Linked DNA regions of Homo sapiens: region 1 is linked to region 2. The links come from fine-mapping of genetic effects on gene expression. A gene starts in region 2. The other region holds a variant in brackets. All regions are shown on one strand. Distances are between the middles of the regions.

What was found.
Region 1: its variant is fine-mapped to the expression of RRN3 in transverse colon (CEDAR, PIP 0.92).

Annotation. Positions count from the first base shown.
Region 1 is chr16:14,503,623-14,506,545 of GRCh38, forward strand. All of the region lies in intron 21 of PARN (poly(A)-specific ribonuclease), which reads right to left. Among named protein-coding and RNA genes, the nearest start is that of LINC03107, 76 kb to the left of the region's middle. The variant A/AAC (reference allele first, on the strand shown) is at 1,858.
Region 2 is chr16:15,092,929-15,095,851 of GRCh38, forward strand. RRN3 (RNA polymerase I transcription factor RRN3) reads right to left here and starts at 1,344. Exons shown (of 18, transcript NM_018427.5): 1 at 1,217-1,344. The coding sequence starts at 1,305. It overlaps LOC100505915 (a long non-coding RNA gene), which reads left to right and starts at 1,483. Exons shown (of 4, transcript NR_125434.1): 1 at 1,483-1,883. It also overlaps a transcript of PDXDC1 not described here. RefSeq lists an enhancer at 1,324-1,618.

The DNA of each region.
Region 1 (2,923 bases), 590 kb before region 2:
AGTGGTCACCCGTGCATCTACCAAAATGGTCTGGACCACTGACTGGGCAGGTTTTGAGAAGCACGGTCACCTGCCTCAGGGTGGTAGCTATCATTTCCTGAGATTATATCACAGGTAGTACACGCTGCCAATGCTGTAGGCTCTGTTACCCTCACTTTATACAGAAAACTGAAGACCCTGTTGAATGGCTTGTCCATAGTCTTGCAGCTGGTATAAGGAGAACTGGAATACAAATTCAAGATGTTTCAATCATACAATGCTGCAAGGAGCTGATGTCAAGGAAGATACAAAGTAATGACCACCTACTCTGCTAGCAGATGGTGGTAAATTGTTCTTAGAAGCAGTGAACCAAGGGCATGATATCAACAGTCCTTGTGTGTGCCTTCTTCAGCAGAGAGGTCTACTGACTGTCAGTGAGTGTTCTGTCTAAACGAGAAGGGGCTTAGAGAGGATCATATCCTTTGACCTAGTAATTCCTCTTTTAGGAAATCATCCTATGAAAACAATCTGAAATGAGGACTAATTTTTAATGCACAAGGATACGTAAATTTTTAAATTAAAAATGTCTTCAAAACACAAACAAATGTTTAATAGTAGGAGAATAGTTAAATAATTATGCTATTCATATTCATTAAAAATTATGTGAGGTTGAGGGAGGCCGGCACGGTGGCTCACACCTGTAATCCCAGCACTTTTGGCGACCGAGGTGGGTGAATCACGAGGTCAGGAGTTGGAGATCAGCCTGGCCAACATGGTGAAACCCTGTCTCTAATAAAAATACAAAAAATTATCCGGGCATGGTGGCATGAGCCTGTAATCCCAGCTACTCGGGAGGCTGAGGCAGGAAAATAGCTTGAACCCAGGAGGCGGAGGTTGCAGTGAGCAGAGATTGCGCCATTGCACTCCAGCCTGGGTGACAGAGCAAGACTCCGTCTCAAAAAATAAATAAATAAAATAAATAAAAATTACGTGAGGGAGAAAGTAGGGAGAGGGGAGAAAAAATACGCTTTCAAAGCAATAATAACCAAACAAAATATAATCAATAAATTCTCTGGCTAGCTATTTGGGAAAAAGTAACATGAATGCCTCTCTCATAGGTTATACCATTGACTCAATCAACAAATATTTGCTGATCACCTATTTTAAGCATTGAGAAAAACTTAGAATAAAAAAATCTTTGCCCTCCTAAGACAATTCGTTAAGCAGTACAGTTTCATATGGGTATTTTCCTATATGTATGTTAAGCCTCCATTTAAAAGTTAAAATAAAAAGCCTGACTTCATGGATCTTACATTCTAGTGGTGAGATATAGACACTAAACAAAAAAGTAAAATATACAGTGTACGTGCAGTGCTATGGAGAAAACAAAAAGCAGGCAGTACTGAGATGTGGGTTGTGATTTTAAATTAAGTGGTCAGGGAAAGTCTTACTGATAAAGTTACCACATAACAATGCAAGATGCCAAATTTCAGATAAATTACATATCACTGTTTAGTATATCATACAATATTTGGCACACAGCTATTTTAAGTGAAATCTGGCAATCTTACTTACTGAAAGGCAAGTGAACAAACCTCATTCCTAATAAATTAAATGTTAATGCTTCTGAATAGGACACTAAAGCCAGAAACTATAAAAGAATAAACTGACAGATATACTATGGAAAATGTAAAGCTTTGGTTCGGCAACATAGGCTAGATTAAGAATAGCTGGGCACAGTGGCGCACGCCTGTAGTCCCAGCTCCTCCAGAGGCTGAGGTGGGAGGACCTCGAGCCCAGGAGTTAAAGGCTGAAGCTGGAGGGTGCTATAATCACACCTGTGAATACTGGGTAACAAAGCAAGATCTCGTCTCTTAA[A/AAC]ACACACACACACACACACACACATACACACACAAAACTGTACAACAAATTGGGACAAGTATTTGCAAAATACAAAACTCAGGATTAATCTAAGCATCATTTTCTCCTATAAAATGAGGGGAGGGGGAAGATACCTGTGGTTCATACAATTATAAGGATTTCAGAACCATGTCTTGTACCTAATAACCAATGGTTCATTAAATGTAATAAATAATAATCATGATGTAGGTGTACTTATAAATCAGCAAGAAAAGCACACAATTCACAAAATAATATCAACCAATTAAACTTCTGAAAATAATTCTAGTGTCAGCTTTGGCAACATGTGAACTAAAATTTGAATGACATCCTTGCACAAAGAGGTCACAAAATTTTAAAAGCAATCCATTTTTTAAAAAAATCATCAATGGACATTAATGCTGCTGGATGAAAGATTACTGAGGAACAGGGTTTCACAGTCTCAAAGTATTACTCACAGAGTACTTATTTATTACAAAGCAGGAAGGCTACAATGGAAAAATCTGTGACCACTATTTACCTAAATGATGTCAAACCAGACATCAGCAATAAGGGAACAAACTGATACCATGTGCCTCTCAGTGTGATGCACTGAAAAGAGCACATCAACTACGTGGTACTCCCGCCAGAAACATTTAATCTGAATCTTATCATGAGACAATCAGAAACATACACATTGAAGGACACTGTAAAACAACTGATCTGAACTCCTCAGAAAAATGTCAATCTTGTGAAAATAAGAAACAGGCTGGGGAACTATTCCAGATTAAAGGAGACTAAAGACTAAAGAGCCATGATGACTAAAAGTAACACAAGACTTTGACTGGAGCTTGGATCCAAAAATAAAAATAGAAAAACTGTAAGGGACATTATTAGGACATTTGGGGAAATTTGATTACAGCATGGACATTAGATCATATCAAAATCATATCAGTGTTAAATTTCCTGAGTGTGATAAATATATTAGGGCAATATTTTTAAAAAGCCTGTGTTCTTAAGAGAAATACACTAAAATACTTCTAAGCAAACTGTTATGTCTCTGACTCTC
Region 2 (2,923 bases):
CAAACAAGCCAAGCTGTTTTTCATTTCACTTACTGTTCACTCTATTGGAAATACTCTTTTCCCAAATCTCTACGTGGCTGGATTTTTTTTTTTGAGATGGAGTCTTGCTCTGCTGCCCAGGCTGGAGTGCAGTGGTGTGATCTTGGCTTAACTGCAACCTCCATCTCCCGGGTTCAAGCAATTATCCTGCCTCAGCCTCCTGAGTAGCTGGGATTACAGGCACCTGCCACCATGCCCGGCTGATTTTTGTATTTTCAGTAGAGACGAGGTTTCGCACGTTGGCCAGGCTGGTCTCCAACTCCTGACTTCAGATGATCCGCCCGCCTCGGCCTCCCAAAGTGCTGGGATTACAGGCGTGAGCAACCGCGCCCGGCCTAGATTTTTGTCTTCATTCAAGTGGAAGCTCAAATGACAGATGTCTTCCCAATGAGAAATCTCAAAAGCTCCTTCTCTCCCTTCTCCCTCCCCCATTACCTTGTTGTATAACTGAAATCATCGTGTTCGTTTATTTATTGGCCTATGTACTGCCTTTCCCCCCTATGCTGTAAGCTCTGTAGAAAGCAGGGACATTAGTGTCTTTGGATAAACCACTGTCCCCAGTGTTTAACACAGTAAGCAGGAGCTCGATAATTATTATGAATCATATTACGCTAATTGTTTTACAAGGTTTGCTTCACTTACACGTAGTAAATTAATGAAAAAACATAGCATCCTAATGACTCTGAAAGTTAAACGCCAAGAGTGCTACGGGGGTTAGGGATTTTAAAAGTGGAGCAAAATAAAGACTGCGAAACAAATACGTGTGTCGAAACAAATTCCAAACAAAAAAGATGTAATATTCAATTTGCCATGAGTGACGACGTTCGGCTGATAACCCACATAGCCCAGGGAAATCCCTTCCAAATTTGGACGAAGAAGAGGGAAGGAAGAGGGGTCAAGGCGCAGAAGGCAGTACCCAGGCCTGGGAAATCACGAAGAGACACAGTCGGGAAAGGGGGCCTCCAGAACAGAGAACATAGTCACTTTTCCAGGCCCCACCCATGTCTATTACCCAGTTAGGAGGAATGAGCTCATTTCTGTGAACGTGAGATGACCCTCCACCCCGTGCTCCTATCACACGCCATGAGCTTTGTCCCACATCCTTTCAATCCGCTCCTCTAAGCGCCGTCCTGAGCTTTCGTCCCAGATACGCAGAAGGAAGCGGCCTGAATCTTACCCAGTCCTCGACGCGCCCAGCTTCTTAACTGCAGAGGACGAAGCGGCCGCATCTCCCGGCAAACGCGTGTGAAGCAGCGGTGCCGCCATTGGGCCGAACTAACGCGACCGCTGCGCCTCAGGCCGGATGCCCAGCTCCTTCCAGCCACAGCCTCTGTCCCGGAAGTTGCGCGTGCCAGCGCAACCTTCAGCCAATCAGCGGCCCCGCGTGGGGAGGGCGTATGCTCTCGGCGGGCTAGAGCGCCGCTGAAACCCGCTCCTCGTTCTACTTGGAGGACTTGTTCCAGCCAGCGCTAGTGCGTGAGTATAAGGAGAGACGGGAAGGACCGGCTCCATCCAGCCCTGAGGATCCCGAAGAAAGGGTGGAAACACCCTGGATGTGCTAAGCTGTGGCCGGGTACACTCAAGTGTTAATTTTTTGGAGTCAAAGCCTCCCTCAGTCAAATCGAAGAAACTGAAGCACTTGTGACTGACCCAGATCTTCACGGAGGAAAGGGGATTCGAACCCGGCTGACCCAGGAGCCTGGGCTCTATACTCAGTGCAGCAGTCTCACAGACACCCAAGATAACGTTATCCTCACGGAAACGAGCTCGACGAAGTGACCTACCTCAGAGCCTCAAGGCTATGGTGATGCTGGCATGAGAAACAACAGGAGAGTTACGAAGAGGTGTTACCCCCTTGACTTTATTTATTTATTTATTTATTTTCTTTTGAGGCCGAGTCTTGCCCTTTTGCCCAGGTGGAGTGCAGTGGTGTGATCTCAGCTCACTGCAACCTCCGCCTCCCCAGTTCCAGCAATTCTCGTGCCTCAGCCTCCCAAGTAGCTGGGATTACAGGCGCATGCCACCACACCCGGCTAATTTTCGTATTTTTAGTGGAGACGGGGTTGCACTGTGTTGGCCAGGCTGGTCTCGAACTCATGACCTCAGGTCATCCGCCCGCCTCGGCCTCCCAAAGTGCTGGGATTACAAGCATGAGCCACCACGCCCGGCCAAACTTAAATTTTTAAAAGAGGAACAGGAGTCAGCCAGACCAACAAAAGAGCCACTGGCGTTCCAAGCATAGGAAACGGAGGAAACAGAGGCCAAAACCTCGGGACTGTGGAGGATGTAGAGGGAGAGCAGGGGCTGCCCCTACTCTCAGGGAGGGGAAAAGGTTGCAACTTTGGAAACTGTACAGGCCTATCAAAAATACAAAAATATCCAGCCTGGGTGACACGGTGAAACTCCATCTCTACAAAAAATTTAAAAAATAAAAATAATAAAAATTATCTGGGTGTGGTGGCACACACCTGTAGTCCCAGCTACTCGGGAGGCTGAGGATTGCTTGAGCCTGGGAGATAGCACCACTGCACTCCTGCTTGGGCAACAGAGTGAGACCCTGTCTCGAAATAAATAAATAAGTTTTTAAAAATGCATATGTATGGGCCCGGCGCAGTGGCTCACGCCTGTTATCCCAACACTTTGGGAGGCCGAGGCAAGTGGATCACCTGAGGCCAGAAGTTTGAGACCAGCCTGGCCAACATGACAAAACCCTGTCTCTACTAAAAATACAAAATTAGCCAGGCATGGTGGCAGTGCCTGTAATCCCAGCTACTTGGGAGGCCGAGGCAGGAGAATAGTTTGAACCCAGGAGGCAGAGGTTGCAGTGAGCCAAGATCGTGCCATTGCACTCCAGCCTGGGTGACGAGTGAAACTGTGTCTCAAA